Regions from separate parts of the Homo sapiens genome. Here region 1 is linked to region 2. Evidence: fine-mapped expression QTL. Tissue or cell type: sun-exposed skin. Region 2 holds a variant in brackets; the other region holds the start of a gene. All regions are shown on one strand. Distances are from middle to middle.

Region 1 (8,082 bases), 45 kb before region 2:
AAAACCCTGTCTCTACTAAAAATACAAAAATTAGCCGGGCGTGGTGGTGCAAGCCTGTAATCCCAGCTACTCAGGAGGCTGAGGCAGGAGAATTGCTTGAACCCGGGAGGTGGAGGTTGCAGTCAGCCAAGATAGCACCACTGCACTCTAGCCTGGGTGACAGAGCAAGACTCTGTTTGATTAAAAAATAAAATAAAAGGCCAGGCACGGCAGCTCATGCCTGTAATCCCAGCACTTTGGGAGGCCAAGGCAGGTGGATCACTTGAGGTCAGGAGTTTGAGACCAGCCTGGCCAATACGGCGAAACCCCGTCTCTACTAAAAATACAAAAATTAGCCGGGCTTGGTGGTGGGCACCTGTAGTCTCAGCTACTCGGGAGGCTGAGGCAGGAGAATCGCTTGACCCCGGGAGGCGGAGGTTACAGTGAGCCAAGATTGTGCCACTGTATCCAGCCTGGACAACAGAGCAACAGAGTGAGACTCCATCTTAAAAAAAAAAAAAAAGTGGCTGTGATCCCCACTTCTGCCCTCCCCTCCTCTTCTCTGCCCACCTCCCTCCTGAGTGATCTCGCTGACCTACTGCCATGCCATCCACCGTCTTCCCAAGGCAGGTGACTCACAGATGCAATTCTCAGGAGGTGCCCTCACGCTGAGCCCAACTGCCTCCTGGATGTCTCCCTGAATGTCATCCCATGAGACCCACGAGACTTTTAGACTGAAGGTGACCCACGGTTTCCCAATCTTAGCACTGTCAACATTTGAGCCTGGATTATTCTTTGGGGGTGGGGGTGTTCTGGATGTTGAATAATATCTCTGGCCTTCACCCACTAGATGTCAGTTGCACCACCCTGAATTCCCCCACCCCCACCTCTACCCCCCACCCAGCAGTATGATCTCCTGATGTTGCTAAACATTCCCTGGCGGAAAACTCTACTCTGCTGGGATGGCCCCAATCAACTGCAAACTCAAACAGCTGATGTTTGTCCAGCCTGTGCCCTGTGCCAGGAGTGGGGCTGAACACCACCTCATCACATGGGCTTCTTCTGCATTTTATGCATAGGGAGATGGAGGCTCAGAGCAGCCATGTGACTAGCTCAAGGCCACACATCCACGAAGCCCACTCTTAGTGCTCCAGGCCCTTTCACTTACTCCTCCTTCCTGGTCTCCAGCTCTTTGAGAGCAGAGAAGCCAGGCAGATGGCTTCTTTTCCTTCTCTCTTCCCTAGAACCCCGTATTTAGCCAGTGGTCAGTGGAGATGACCTCCGGGACCTCATCCTTAACCCCTTCCTGGGTCTCAGCTACCCCCACCCTTTGTCTCTGTCCCCTGCAGCCACTGGAGGGGTCCCTCTCAAACTTCACTCTATGTGGATCTCTGCATTTTCCAAAGTGCTTCTAGTAAGCTCCCCCTTGGCCAGAATTACTGGCAAAACAAAATTCATATCCCTAAAAAATAGGCTTTCATGCTGCGTTAATTATGAATAAAAAATTAATAAAATAAGCTCTTCCTCAGAAGTAAAAAAGATTAAAGACACAAATAAATATAAATATTTTTTTTTAAAAGTTCTAGGAGCTGGGAGAATGGCTTGAGCCCAGGAGTTTGAGACCAGCCTGGGCAACATAGTGAGACCCTGTCTCTAAAAAAATGAAAAAAAAAAATTAGCTGGGTGTGGTGGCACGTGTCTGTAGTCCCAACTACCCAGGAGGCTGAGGCAGGAGGATGGCTTGAGCCCAGGAGTCACCCCAGCCTGGATGACAGAGTGAGACCAATCAACTAACAGGGGGCACCTCCCCTACTCAAGCACCATCCATGGCTCCCCACTGCCCACCAGATCAAGATCCAGCCATTCAAACTGGCCTTCACAGTCAACTCCTGCATCCCTCCAGCCTCCACACCTCTCACACTCCAAGGCCAGGGAAAGCCATCTGCTAAGTCACACCCTCCAGTTTCTCTGTGCTTGAGCTCTACCCCCTCTCCTGCACTTGTTGAAATCCAACCTCTCCATGCAGTCCCAGCTCAAGTGTCACATCCTCCACGTCGCCTTCCCTGACCTCATGTCTGCCTCCTCCAAGCAGCAAAACTTCAATTACTTGTGTCTCCTCTTCTTCACCAGGAGACATGCCCCACACCTCCCACGCCCTCTTTCCAAGGGCCCAGCACCAAATGAGAGCGTATTCTTAGAAAAAAGAGGGATAAGGAAGTCTTCTAAGTTTACCACCTGCTGGGGCAAGTGGAGATTCTTGTCTTCTCATCTGTCTGCCCACGTGCTAAGGTCAGCCACACATCCACCCACCGACTCCGGAGGACAGACACATCCAGAGGCGGAGCTGACTCTGTCTCCACACATCTGGAGTAGACGGGTTGGCCAAGGACAACATCCTGGTCAGAGGGTCAAGGTGTCTGGCAGTGGGTGGGGAGGAGTGGCGGAGGGCGGGTTGGCGGGGAGCAGAACCAGTCTGGTGCTGCTTGTTGAGGTTGGAGGTCTTCCTGGAGGAAGAGGCTGCAGAGCCTCCAGGGGTGGGTGCCGGGGAAGCTTAGGCCCAGGATCCAGAGAGAGGGGAAGGGCTGGTTCCCAAGGGCTGGTGGAGCCAGAGAATTCCTGAGGGCCCCAGAGGAGGCTTCTCGGGGGGGTCAGTGGGGCCCCAGGGGGTGATGGTTTAGAGATCGCTGTCCAAGCTTGGGAGCAAACCTGGAAGTAAGGGCCATGGGGGGTGTTGGTGTGGGAGGAGTGTGGTCCAGAGCGGGACTTGGGCGCTAATGCGGCCCAGCAGTGGCAGGAGGGCGGGGAGCCTGATGGTTTGGGACTTCTAGGTGTCCAAGTCTCTGTCTCTCTTCATCTCTCCATCTCAGTCTCAGTCTCTCTCTCTTTCCATCGCTCTCCACCCCTCCACACGCCTATTTCTTGTTCTCTCCTTTTCTAGGGGGCAGCGCTGGAGTCCCCGCCCAGAACCCTGCGGGAGCCCGGGGCGGGATGTCCGGGGGCGGACCCCTCGGCACGGCCGGGCGGGGTTAAAGGGTTGGGCCGTGGGACGGCGCGGTCAGATCCCAGGTAGTGGCGCCGGTGGATCCGGATCGAGGGCAGGAGGCTGAGACCCGCGGGTGAGTGCGCGCGTGGTGAGGGCTGTAACCTGAGCGCGGCCGCGGCGCTGCGCTGGAACCCGAGGCTCGCGCGGTTCGGTGCTGGCGGGGCAAGGGCGAAGGTCTGCGCGCGGCGGCGGGCGGGGCGCAGCCGGCCACGGGGACCCCCCCAGGACCCAGGACGGGGCTGCATGCCCGGGGCACTCGTGGGGAGAGGGGCACGTGGGTGTGTCCCCGACGTTTGCTGCATTTGTGAGTTGTTTTCTTTTTTTTTTTTTCTGTGTGCGCCTCGGAGTCCTAGGCGCATCCTTTTCTCTGGGTATCTGTGATGGGCAGGGGGCCTCCAAAAGACCCCTCTGGTAGTCAGGACATCCCAGATGGGTTCAAGCCCCGCCCTGGGACGCCTCTTTGGGGCTGAATGGGGATTCGCCCTGAGATTTCACCACTGCACGTTGTCTTGACGGGGAGGTTGTAGTACATTCAACCGATGGGGTTAGGCTTGTGGTTCAACTGCTATCAGGAACCCTCTGCCCATCCATGCCAGACGCAGAGCCCCTCTATGAAAAGACGGTGTTCTTCTGGCCCCGAGAGTTGGCTCTGAGGGTTGTGTGAGGTCCTGGGGTTGGTCCCAGGTGATCTTCGTCTGATAGATGCTGGAAGGAAGATGTTTTCTGGCCTCCCAGGGGCCTGGCCCAGCCTGGGTATGCAAGTTGGCCGAGGCTGGCCACCTGGGGAGTCGCAGGCTGGAGAGGCCTAGGCTCAGGGCATCTCTCCTGGTTCATCTGCCCGCTCACAGCTCATTCATGCACTCATTGTGAGTCTCACCGCCCTGTAGGCAAAGGAGATGGCCAGGGCTGGCTGCGTACCCGAAATTCCTCCTACCCTGTGCCCCTTGCTCCACCCCTTATTTCTAGGTCCTGGAGCTGTGCCCAGCCAGGGCTGGCAGCATCAAACTCCTTCTTGTGTAACTCCAAACCCCAAAGAGAAGGAACCTCCCCAAATCTTCCCTACCACCCTCATTTTACAGGCACGGAAACTGAGGGCCAGAGAGAAGAAGCCTGTGCCTGTGGATACCCAGTGCCCAGTGGGAGAGCTGGGATTTGAAAAAACAAGCCCTGTTTGACCCCAAAGCCTCAGTCCACTTTCCGATGTCCCCGGCATCACCAAATGGCCCAGCTTGGGTTTCTGAACAGTAACATTAACTCTGGCCTGGTGTCTGGCGGTGACCCAGGTTGGTATCTGCAGAGGGGCTTGGATGACTTGAGAGGCATTCAGGGAATGGGACCCATCTCTCCTTCCTTCCTTCCTTCCTTCCTTCCTTCCTTCCTTCCTTCCTTCCTTCCTTTCTTTCTTTCCTTCCTTCTTTCTTTCTTTCTTTCTTTCTTTTCTCTGTCTCTCTCTCTTTCTTTCTTTCTTTCTTTTTTTGTTGTTGTTGTTGAGACAGGGTCTCACTTTGTCACCCAGGCAGGAGTGCAGTGGCATAATCATAGCTCACTGCAGCCTCGATCTCCTGGGTTCAAGCAATCCTCCTACCTCAGCCTCCTGAGTATGGAGGACTACAGGCATGCACCACCACTCCTGTCTACTTTTTGTATTTTTGGTAGGGATGGGGTTTCACCATGTTGCCCAGGCTGGTCTTGAACTCTTGGGCTCAAGTGATCCACCCGCCTCAGCCTCCCAAAGTGCTGGGATTACAGGCATGAGCCACTGCGCCTGACTCATCTCTCCTTGTTGATAAAACTTGGACCTGATTCTCCAAACCCCAGATGGCCAGGTCACAATAATGAACGTGATGGCAGCACCAACGGTAATGAGAGATATCATTGATCAAAGGCTTACTATGTGCCTGGAAGATTGCAGCCCCATGAGGTGGGTAAATAGGGCTTCTGTCTTAATGGATGAAGAAATTGAGGCTCAGAGAGGTGCAGACACTCACCCGAGGTCGCACAGCAAAGAGGCAGACCTTTATAGAATCTTTTCTGAGGCTCATGTCCAGGTGTGGCCACACTTGGGATGGTGGGCAGAAACAATTACAACCCTGCAATGGTCTAGATTATTAGTGGTTTTAAAACTTCTTTTTCTGCCAGGATCCCCTTTGGGCCAAGGAAATTATTAGCAAAAGGTTTGAATATGATCAAAGCTGCGATAGGACTGTCTCCTTTACCACATTTGCCAACTTGGCCCTGCCCTCATTAGTCATAAATGACTCTGAAGCTCTTTCTCAGAACCTTAGAAATTTAGAGTGCTGAGTGGAGACTGAAGACCTAGAAGCCAGGCTGAGTGTGGTGGCTCATGCCTGTAATCCCAGCACTTTGGGAGGCTAAGGCTGGAGGATGGTTTGAGCCCAGGACTTTGAGACCAGCCTGGGGAATATAGGGATACCATATATATATATATATATATATTTTTTTTTTTTTTTTTGAGATGGAGTTTTGCTCTTGTTGCCCAGGCTGGAGTGTAATGGCGTGATCTTGGCTCACTGCAACCCCTGCCTCCCGGGTTCAAGCTGTTCTCTTGCCTCAGCCTCCTGAGTAGCTGAGACTACAGGCATGTGCCACCATGCCTGGCTAATTTTGTATTTTTAGTAGAGATGGGGTTTCTCCATGTTGGTCAGGCTGGTCTCGAACTCCCGACCTCAGGTGATCCTCCCTCCTCCCAAAGTGCTGAGATTACAGGCATGATTACAGGCATGAGCCACCGCGCCCAGCACTATATTAATTTTTTTTAACAAAAAAATTAAAAAAAAATTAGCTGAGCATGGTGGCAGGCGCCTGTAGTCCCAGCTACTCAGGATGCTGAGGTGGGAGGATCACTCAAGCCCAGGACGGGGAGGTTGCAGTGAGCCAAGATCACACCACTGCACTCCAGCCTGAAGGACACAGCAAGACCATGTCTAAAAAACAAAACAAACAAACAACAACAACAACAAAACAACTTAGAAGTCCCCTCTCAGCTCCAGCCTTCTGGGGTCTGGCACTTTGGGGGAATATGTGAGTCTCTGGGGTAAGCCAGCCCTCTGATGTTGAGGAAGCCAAGGTGGCACCATGAATCAGTGGGGACGGGGGCAGGCTGCCTTGACTACAGGCTTGGAGTGAAAAGGAGGGCTGGGATTTGGGGTGATGGGGCCAGCGTTGGGGTGCTCTTCCATCAGGCTCCTGGCTGGTCCCAGCCCCTGCAGTTCAAGAAGAGGCATGTATCTCGTACCTGGCGTCGGCCTGGGTCCGTGCCCTCCACTCCTTCTTGGGAGCCCACACACCTTGTATAACAAGTCCTCAGTGGGTGAACGGCTGGGCCAACCTGACAAACCAGCGCGACCTGGGCGTGGGCCGGGACACGGAGCCAGTCGCTGGCTTTCACCACCACCAGATAATGCGGGCCCTGGCAGGGCAGGGCCACCTCTACCAAGGCGGGCCTGCTGGATGAGATCGGGGGCCGGTGTAGATAGGGAGTGGACATGCCAGCCGCCCACAACATTCTGAGGGTGTCACCTTTGAATTGCTCTCACTTCTATCAAATAGCAATAATAGGAGTAGTCATCATGGCTAACATTTTGTGAGCTACGTGACAAGGCCTTTCCATGCCTCATTTCACTGAGCCGTCCCAAAAACCTTAGGGGGTAGGTCCTGTTATTATCAACCCATTTCACAGATTGGCAAAGGGAGGCTGATGGCAGGGACTGGGTTCACCCAAGGCTGCTAACCTAGGGAATAGGAGAGCTGAGATTTGAACCCAGGCCTGTTGAAGTCAAAAGTGAACATTAAATTAAATTAAATTAATTTTAGTTTTTGAGATAGAGTCTCACTCTGTCCCCCAGGCTGGAGTGCAGTGGCAAGATTTTGGCTCATTGCAACCTCTGCCTCAGCCTCCCAAGTAGCTGGGGCTACAGGCATCCACCACCATGCCCAGCTATTTCTTTTTTTCTTGGTAGAGACAGGGTTTCATCATGTTGCCCAGGTTGGTCTTAAATTCCTGACCTCAAGTGATCCTCCCTCCTCAGCCTCCCAAAGTGCTGGGATTACAGGCATGAGCCACCATGCCTGGCCTGATTTTTTTGTTTTTTAGTAGAGACGGAGTCTCACTATGTTGCACAGGCTGGTCTCAAATTCCTTGGTTCAAGTGATCCTCCCATCTTGGCCTCCCAAAGTGCTGGGATTACGGGCATGAGCCACTTCACCTGGCTGATACCTTTCCTCCATTATCTAAACTCCATAGTTTACATTAGGATTCACTCTTTGTGTCATGCAGTAAACTAATGAATTTTTATAATTGATTCAATTTTTTTTGAATGGGTGACATGTGCTCATGGTATAGGAAACCAAAACGACTGGAAAAGTGGATAGTAAACTTAAGTTTCCCTTCCACCCCTGTCCCGAGTTCTTTCAGGCCCTTTCCAGAGGCTGCCACCATTTTTCCTGGGTCCTCAAAGCTTTTCTCTCTCTCTCTCTCTCTCTTTTTTGTATTACCATTTATTGGTGACAAACACTAAGTTTTACTCGCATTCCATGAGGAGAAAAACTCCAGTGTAAACGATGAATGGAGGCAGTACTTAACTCGCAGGGGTACCAGGCTTTCCATATGGACCACACACAGAGCCTCAGTGCACACACTTCTTTTTTCATTTTTATTTTTTTGAGACGGAATCTCGCTTTGTGACCCAGGCTGGAGTGCAGTGGCATGTTCTCGGCTCACTGCAACCTCTGCCTCCCGAGTTCAAGCGATTCTCCTGCCTCAGCCTCCTGAGTAGCTGGGACTACAGGCGAATGCTGCCACGCCCTGCTAATTTTTTGTATATATATATATTTTTTTTTTTTTTTTTTTTTGAGACAGAGTCTCACTCTGTCACCGAGGCTGGAGTGCAGTGGCGCGATCTCGGCTCACTGCAAACTCCGCCTCCCGGGTTCACGCCATTCTTCAGCCTCAGCCTCCCGAGTAGCTGGGACTACAGGCGCCCGCCACCTCGCCCGGCTAATTTTTTTTATTTTTAGTAGAGACGGGGTTTCACCGTGTT
Region 2 (8,101 bases):
CCAGGCTGGGATGTCTGGGGCAGCCCCCAGACTCATCTCCAGGCTGTTCCTCCCTAGGTGTACAACCCCTACCGCTTTGACCCGGACAACCCACAGCAGCGCTCTCCACTGGCCTATGTGCCCTTCTCTGCAGGACCCAGGTAACCCCTCTATTTCCCCTAGTCCAAGCCAGCTGTGTAGGAACAGAGGCAGGGAAAGATCAGGAATGTGCCTCTCAGGAGCAGAGATCAGATGGCACCCAGGCGTCCTTTCTGAAGACCCAGCACCCTCTCCCCAATGCGCCAGGAGGCCCCCAAATCAGACTCTGCAATAGCATCCTGGGTATTGAGCACCAACGGTGTGTCAGGCCCTGAGTTCTGGGCTCCCACGCTCCCATTGGCTCTATGATGCCTTTGTCCCCGTTTTTACAGATGAAGGAACTGAGACTCAGAGGGGGCGCTGTGTATCCAGGACACACAGCTAGTAAGAGGCTGTACTGGGATTCAGACACTCAACCCCAAGGTCACATTAATTGAGCGATCCGTGGGGTCTCACTTTAACCCTCACCCAGCGTGGGGTTTCACTTTAACCCTCAGCCAGCCCAGGATGCTTGCTTCATTTTCAAAGGAGGCATGTGACCCCCGGGGACCAGTGCTCACACAGAAGCTGGGCCTGAGCCCTGTCCCCTCTTCCTCCAGGAATTGCATCGGACAGAGCTTCGCCATGGCCGAGTTGCGCGTGGTTGTGGCACTAACACTGCTACGTTTCCGCCTGAGCGTGGACCGAACGCGCAAGGTGCGGCGGAAGCCGGAGCTCATACTGCGCACGGAGAACGGGCTCTGGCTCAAGGTGGAGCCGCTGCCTCCGCGGGCCTGAGCGTGGGCGCGCCCCTGCGGCTCCCGAGGGTCCAGGCCCCGCCCCCAAAGGACCAGGACTCGCCCCAAAGATCCCGAGGGCATAGGCCACCCCCCTCGAAGTTCAGGTTCAGCTCCTGGATGACCAGGCACCGCTGTTGAGCAGCCTGGTGGTACTGGCCACGCCCCTCAAGGCAAGGCTCCTCCCCTTAGGGGGCCTGATCCCGCCCCTTGAGGCTTAGGTCCCGCCCCCTGACTTCTCGCACCTGTCCTGTTTGAGGGACCAGGGTCGACCCTGCCCCCTTGGGCTCAGGCCCCGCCCCCAGGATCCTACGGATTGAGGTCCTCAGGCCACGCCCCTGCAGATCCAGGTCTCCAGGCCTTGCCCACTGAGCCTTCAGAGGACCTAAGACCCACCTATGACTCAGGGCCCACCACACCCCACCCCCCCCCAACTGGCTGAACCCCTGGCAGGCTTCCAAACTGAGGAAAGCTGGAGCCTGACGTCAGAGCTTTTAACTCGGACATCACCCTCCTGAGGCCCTCAGCTCATACGGGCAGACTGCTCAGGCGTGAGGCTGGATCGTAGGGTTCGAGGCTGCTTGCTTTTGTTGTTGTTTTGTAAACTCAGACCCTTGTAAGCCCCTTCCTTCCTCCCTTGCCCAAAGATCCTTTGCTGAGTGTTCTGTTTTTGCAGAATAAAAGCAAAGGATGCAGACTTACCCCACCCTCCACCCCTAGCTCAGCCAGATCCTTACACGTGGAGCCCCCAGCATGGGAATGAGGGGCTCTGCAACTGAGCGAAGCTGCGGGCTAGGAGGCTGGAAAGCCATTTATCCTAGGACATAAACTCAGATTTTGGGGGTCAGTTTGTGTGTTCATTTATTTCATCAACAGATCACATATTGTTTGCTGGCACTGCTTCAGAACCACAGGCAGGCCCTGTTTTCTGCCTTCTTAGGGGGTGGGGGACAGATGTTGAACAAATAATTCCACGTGTAAAGGTTTATTTACAACCCAGGACAGGTGCTCCAAAGGAGAGGCCCCGGGTGCTGGATGAATATAGCAGAGGGATGGGGATGGGTCAGGGAGAGCTTCTCCGATGCTGGAATGGAAGTTGAGTGGGTGACAAGGGGAGGGAAGAGTATTCCAGGCAGAAGGAACAACATCTGAGAATACCCTGAGCTGAGGGAGAACAGAGTGTGTTTGAGGAACTCACCAGGGGCCAGGTGGTTGGATCTGGGAAGTGGGGGCAGAATGAAGGAAGGGGCCAAATGCACAGGCTTTATGCTGAGGGCAATAGGGAGCCATGGAGAGTGTGTGAGCGGGATCAGGACAGGACATGGCCAGATCTAGGGCTGGCAGGGAGGTGACTTGCGGGGTTGGGACCCTGGGAAAGAGGGAAGCTGAGGTCCAGACAACAGGAAGGGCCAGGATTGGGGTGACTATCTAGCAGTGGGGGCTGAGGGGAGGGAGGTGGTAAGGGTGATGCTCAGGTATTTGGCTGAGGGAACTTGATGGTAGAGTAGTCCCTGATATGGGAATATAAAAGATGGGGGCCAGGCGTGATGGCTTACACCTGTAATCCCAGCACTTTGGGAGGCTGAGGCTGGAGGATTGCTTGAGACCAGGAGTTAGAGACCAGCCAGGGCAACACAGTGAGACTCCATTTCTACAAAAAATAAAAAATTAGCCAGGTGTGATGGTGCACATCTGTAGTCCCAGCTACTTGGGAGGCTGAGGCAGGAGGATCACTTGAGCTGAGGAGTTTGAGGCTGCAGTGAGCTATGATCACACCACTGCACTCCAGCTGGGGCAACAGAGCAAGACCCTGTTCCAAAAACAAACAAACAAAAAAAGGTGGGCAATGACAATGTCAGCAATTTTATACATATAAAATGCTACACTAAAGGAAAATGATACTGCTATTATACCACATATATAATATATATATATGCACTATATATGCCATCATTATATATATAGTGGTGGTATAATAGTGGTATCATCTTCCTTTTAGGTAGCATTTGCCTGTAGACTATTTCCATCTAGGTCACTAGAGACAATAATATTAATTCAACAGGCCGGGTGCGGTGGCTCATGCCTGTAATCCCAGCACTTTGGGAGGCTGAGACAGGTGGATCACCTGAGGTTAGGAGTTTGAGACCAGCCTGGCCAACATGGTGAAACCCTGTCTCTACTAAAAAATACAAAAATTAGCCACGTTTGATGGCGGGTGCCTGTAATCCCAGCTACTCAGTAGGCTGAGGCAGGAGAATCGCTTGAACCTGGGAGGTGGAGGTTGCAGTGAGCCGAGATTGTGCCACTGCACTCCAGCCTGGGCGACAGAGTGAGATTCTGTCTAAAAAAAAAATTAATTTACCAAATATTTCTTGGGCAATCTGCCGTGAGACAGGCACTGTTTGAGCCCTAGGTTCCCAGAGTTTACCTCTAGGGAGGAGATATGATAAATGATAAATAAGTAAAGAAAGAAGTAAATTCACACAGGGCCTTTTCTGTGACTTTTTTTGTGACAGAAATGGGGAGTTCTGAGCAGAGGAGGGACAAGCTTTGTCATACGAACTTTTTTTTTTTTTTTTTTGAGACAGGGTCATGCTTTGTTGCTCAGGCTGGTGTGCAGGGGTGCAACCATAGCTCACTGCAGCCTTGGCCTCCTTGGGCTCAAACGATCCTCCTGCCTCAGCCTCCTGAGTAGCTGGGACCACAGGCACACACCACCATGCCCAGCTAAGCTTTGTATTTGTTATCGAGACGGGGGTCTTACCATGTTGCCCAGGCTGGTCTTGAACTCCTGGTCTCAAGCGATCCTCCCACCTCAGCCTCCCAAAGTGCTGGAATTACAGGTGTGAGCCACCATGCCAGGACTTCCACAGGACTTTGTGTGCTCTGTTAAACAGAGACAGTGTGAGCAAAGATGGGACTAGGCAGATCAGTTAGGGGTGACTGCATTCGTCCAGGTGAGACATGATGGTGGCTTCAACCAAGCCGGGGTCTTTAGATGTGATCAAGAGCAATTGGATTCCAAGGAGGAGTGACTGTTCACAAAGGCAGTGCTGTCAGGCTTGGTGGTGGATAAAACGTGAAGTTTGAAAGAAGTGGGGGACACTAGGTTTGGGCTTGAACATCTGGAAAAATGGAACTGCCATCAGCTGACGTGGGGAATGCTGAGTGGAGTAAGTTGTTTTGTGGGAGATGTCAGGATGTCAGTTTTGGTTCAGAGGAATTGGACATGTCAGTCGAATAAACGGTTCTCCAATTCAAGAGTTTTGGGTTGGGCATGTATATTTGGGAAGCCTTAGTATAAATATTTTATATATTTTTCCAAAAGCTAGTGAAGCGATTTCAAATGGGGGTGATTTTTCCTACCAGATGACATTCGTTGTTATTTGGAAACATTTTTGGTTGTCACAACCGGTGGTTACTATTTGCGTCTAGAGGGTAGGGACCCAGCACTCTGCTAAACATTCTACAAGACAAAGGATACCTAGCTCAATAAAACAAGTAATTATCCAGTCCCAAAGGCAACAGTTCTGCTAATTAAAAACCATGAACTGGAGAACCAAAACAAACAAAAAAAAAAAAACAAAAAAAAAAAAACAGAAAAGAAAGCAAAACTTTAAGACTGGGTGAGATCTCATGTGTGCGTGTGTGTGTGCGCGCACGCGCGCGCGCGCGTGTGTGTGTGTGTGTGTGTGTGTGTGTGTGTATGGAGTAAGGGCTTAAGGGAGCCCTGGGGGTGGTCTCCAAAGTTAACCTAACAATTATGAGGCCAGGCGTGGTAGCTCACACCTGTAATCCCAGCACTTTGGGACGCCGGGGTGGGCGGATCAGTTGAGGCGAGGAGTTCCAGACCAGCCTGGCCAACATGGTGAAACTCCATCTCTACTTAAAATACAAAAAATTAGGGCAGGGCGCGGTGGCTGACTCCTGTAATCCCAGCACTTTGGGAGGCCGAGGCGGGCGGATCACGAGGTCAGGAGATTGAGA[T/C]CATCCTGGCTAACACGGTGAAACACTGTCTCTACTAAAAATAAAAAAAAAATCAGACGGGAGTGGTGGCACGCGCCTGTAGTCCCAGCTACTCGGTAGGGCGAGACAGGAGAATCGCTTGAACCCGGGAGACGGAGGTTGCAGTGAGCCAAGATAGTGCCGCTGCACTCCAGCCTGGGTGACAGAGCGAGACTCGGTCTGAAAAACAAAAACAAAACTTTTTTTTTTGATTGAGTGCTTCCTGTGTGCTCTTTCCATATATTCCCATTTAATCCTCATACTGACTTGTAAGATCACTTTTTATTATTCCGTTTAACAGAGGTAGAAACTGAGCCCCCGAATGAAGTGACTTACCCAAGATCATTCGGTGCGGCCTCAGCGCTGGCGCTGAGTCCTCTTCTGCCCCACCCCTCAGGCTCCCAGTCCTGGTCTAGATCCCTAGCCACGTAGCGTAGAAGGGGGCGTCGACGGGGGTTGGGCTAGAGTTGGAGCGGGGAGGAGATGAGCTAAAGCGGGGCTGGCTGTGCGAGAGGCAGTAGCAGCGGCGTGTGTCCTGGGGCGCCCCCCGGTGGCCTGTGCTGGGGTCGTCGGCCGGGATCCCCTGTTCGACGTACTCCGGGGCTGAATGGGAAACAGACAGTCCCAGACCCTACGTGAGCCACCCGGATCTTGCAGGTGCTGCCTCTCCTACACCCCCCTCCCAACCGAGGGTCTCCAAGAGCGCATCCTTTGCCAAACATCTCCTGGGCCCTTTTCGGCGCAACCTCGCCATCCACTAGCAAACGAAGTTAGCCTTGAGATCCGACATATGTGGGCTCAATCTAGGCTCTTCCTTCCTAGGGGCGGCCTTGGGCACGTGACTGTCCCTCTCTGCACCTCGGCTTTTTCTTGTCATGCGAATAGTCCGGTATCATCATGCTTGTAATGCACACTGAGTTTCCGCCAAGGGCCACGAGGGTGAATAAATGAGAATGAGAAGGGGAGGAGTAAGGTCCCTGGGTCCCCGGAGCCCTGTTACACGTACTGCAAGTGTAATTCTCAAAACACCGAAGTCTGGTCCTGTCGCTGGCGGCTGTGGGACCTCCTTCCTCCTGAGTGTGAAGAACGCTCCCTCTGCTGGACAATTTGGAGATCCATTCTCTATTCGTTCAATTTTGTGTCCGTGCACGTTTGAGCGTGCATGTGTGACCGCGTATGTGTTTGGGTGCATTTGGGTAACAGTGTGTGCATGTGTTGTAGTGTGCACACGAGTGTGTGTAAACGTGTATGTGTCGGTGTGACTGTGTGTGCGCATATGGATGGGTGTGTTGGAAGGAGAGGAGAGGAGAACTCCACTCACTGAGTCACTGTAACTATCCACACACACCAGGCTGTGTTCCTGCTCATGGCTGGAGCCACTGTCAGAGCCCTTGCCTCTGTCCCCAGGTCTGACCTGTGCGGTGCAGGCAGGACATTCTGGAGAAATCATGCCCTTGGAGGAAGCTGTCAGTAATGACTGGTGGGTATTGGTGGATAAATACCCCAGCTCCCTCTCTCTGGGGGTGAAGACTCCCTTGTTCTGGGAGGTGCATGTTCTATTCTGTCTCCCTGAGGTACTAGGCAGGGCTGAGCCCTAGCTACCCACAGTGGAAACTTCCTCAATAAAGGTCCCTTTAACTGCTGCTGCCTTCCCTTCCCCATCCCTCTTCTCCATTGCCCTAATTGTGTTTCCAGGGATCACCTCCCAAAGAAACAACAGGCAGTTGAACTCTTGTCTTATGGTCACCCTCCTGATAGAGGATTTGCACTCAACTCCTTGTATTAAGGTCTAGTTCCAGGGAACCCAAATTAAGACACACATGTGTGCTGGTTCCTCCAATCCCCAGAAGCCTGTCAGTGTGCGCTTTTATTTATTTTTTTTACCAACGATGAATGTGAGGCTCAGAGAGGGCAAATCACTTGCCCAAGGTCACACGGCAGTGAGGGAGTGGCAGAGCCTGGCTTTGACTATGGGCTGTCTGACCACAAGCTGGGTGCTCACTCCTCTCCTGACAGCCTCCTCCCTCCTCAAGGACATGGAAGGAGCAGGGAATAAGTTATAAGTGTAAAATTTGAAAGGGAAATTCTTCCGCTTTCTGCTTCTGCTTCTACCTCTGGCCCAGCAGTTTGGTGTGCTCTTTTTTCAGTTTTTAAAAATTAAAAAACGTTCATATATATATGAACGTTTTCCAATGTATATAAAAGCATTTATGCACACGTTACCGGGTTTTTTTTGTTTATTAAAAAAATTTTTTTTTTGGAGACAGGGTCTCACTCTGTCACCCAGGCTGGAGTGCAGTGGCATGATCTCGGCTCACTGCAACCTCTGCCTCCTGGGTTCAAGTGATTCTACTGCCTCAGCTTCCTGAGTAGCTGGGATTACAGGCACACCACCATGCCTGGCTAATTTTTTTTTTGTTATTTTTAGTAGATATGAGGTTTCACCATGCTGGCCAGGCTGGTCTTGAACTCCTGACCTCAAATGATCCACCCACCTTGGCCTCCCAGTGCTGGGATTACAGGGGTGAGCCACTGCACCCGGCCTTTTTTTTTTTTTCTTTTTTTGATACAGGGTATTGCTCTGTTGCCTAGGCTGGAGTGCAGTGGCTCAATCTCAACTCATTGCAACCTCTGTCTCCTGGGGTCAAGCAATCCTCCCACCACCACATCCAGATGCTTTTTTTTGTATTTTCTGTAGAGATGGGGTTTTACCATGTTGCCCAGGCTGAACTGGAACTCCTGGATTCAAGTGATCCGCCTATGTTGGCCCCCCGAACTGTTGTGATTACAGGCCTGAGTCACTGCACCCAGTCCATTATCAGTTTTTTGATGACTCCAAACTTGTTGGGAAATATATCTGTTTCAATTATCTATTATTGTATATTGAACTACCAGGAAACTTAGTAGGTTAAAACAATATACAGGCCAAGCTCGGTGGCTCATGCCTGTAATCCCAGCACTTTGGGAGGCCGAGGCTGGCGGATCACCTGAGGTCGGGAGTTCGAGACCAGCCTGACCAACACGGAGAAACCCTGTCTCTACTAAAAATACAAAGTTAGCCGGGCGCGGTGGTGTGAGCCTGTAATCCCAGCTACTTGGGAGGCTGAGGCAGGAGAATCGCTTGAACTAGGGAGGCAGAGGTTGCTGTGAGCCAAGATCATGCCATTGCACTCCAGTCTGGGAAACAAGAGCGAAACTCCATCTCAAAAAAATAAAAAAGATATACAAGTTTTTTTTTTTTT

The links. PIP is the estimated chance that this variant, and not a neighbour inherited with it, causes the effect.
Region 1: it holds the start of CYP4F22, and the variant in region 2 is fine-mapped to the expression of CYP4F22 in sun-exposed skin (GTEx, PIP above 0.99).

The regions. Positions count from the first base shown.
Region 1 is chr19:15,505,489-15,513,570 of GRCh38, forward strand. CYP4F22 (cytochrome P450 family 4 subfamily F member 22) reads left to right here and starts at 3,037. Exons shown (of 14, transcript NM_173483.4): 1 at 3,037-3,095. RefSeq lists an enhancer at 2,681-3,181.
Region 2 is chr19:15,550,617-15,558,717 of GRCh38, forward strand. It overlaps CYP4F22 (cytochrome P450 family 4 subfamily F member 22), which reads left to right. Exons shown (of 14, transcript NM_173483.4): 13 at 58-140; 14 at 678-1,701. The coding sequence ends at 855. Among named protein-coding and RNA genes, the nearest start is that of CYP4F22, 46 kb to the left of the region's middle. RefSeq lists silencers at 950-999, 5,197-5,256 and an enhancer at 5,717-5,856. The variant T/C (reference allele first, on the strand shown) is at 4,842.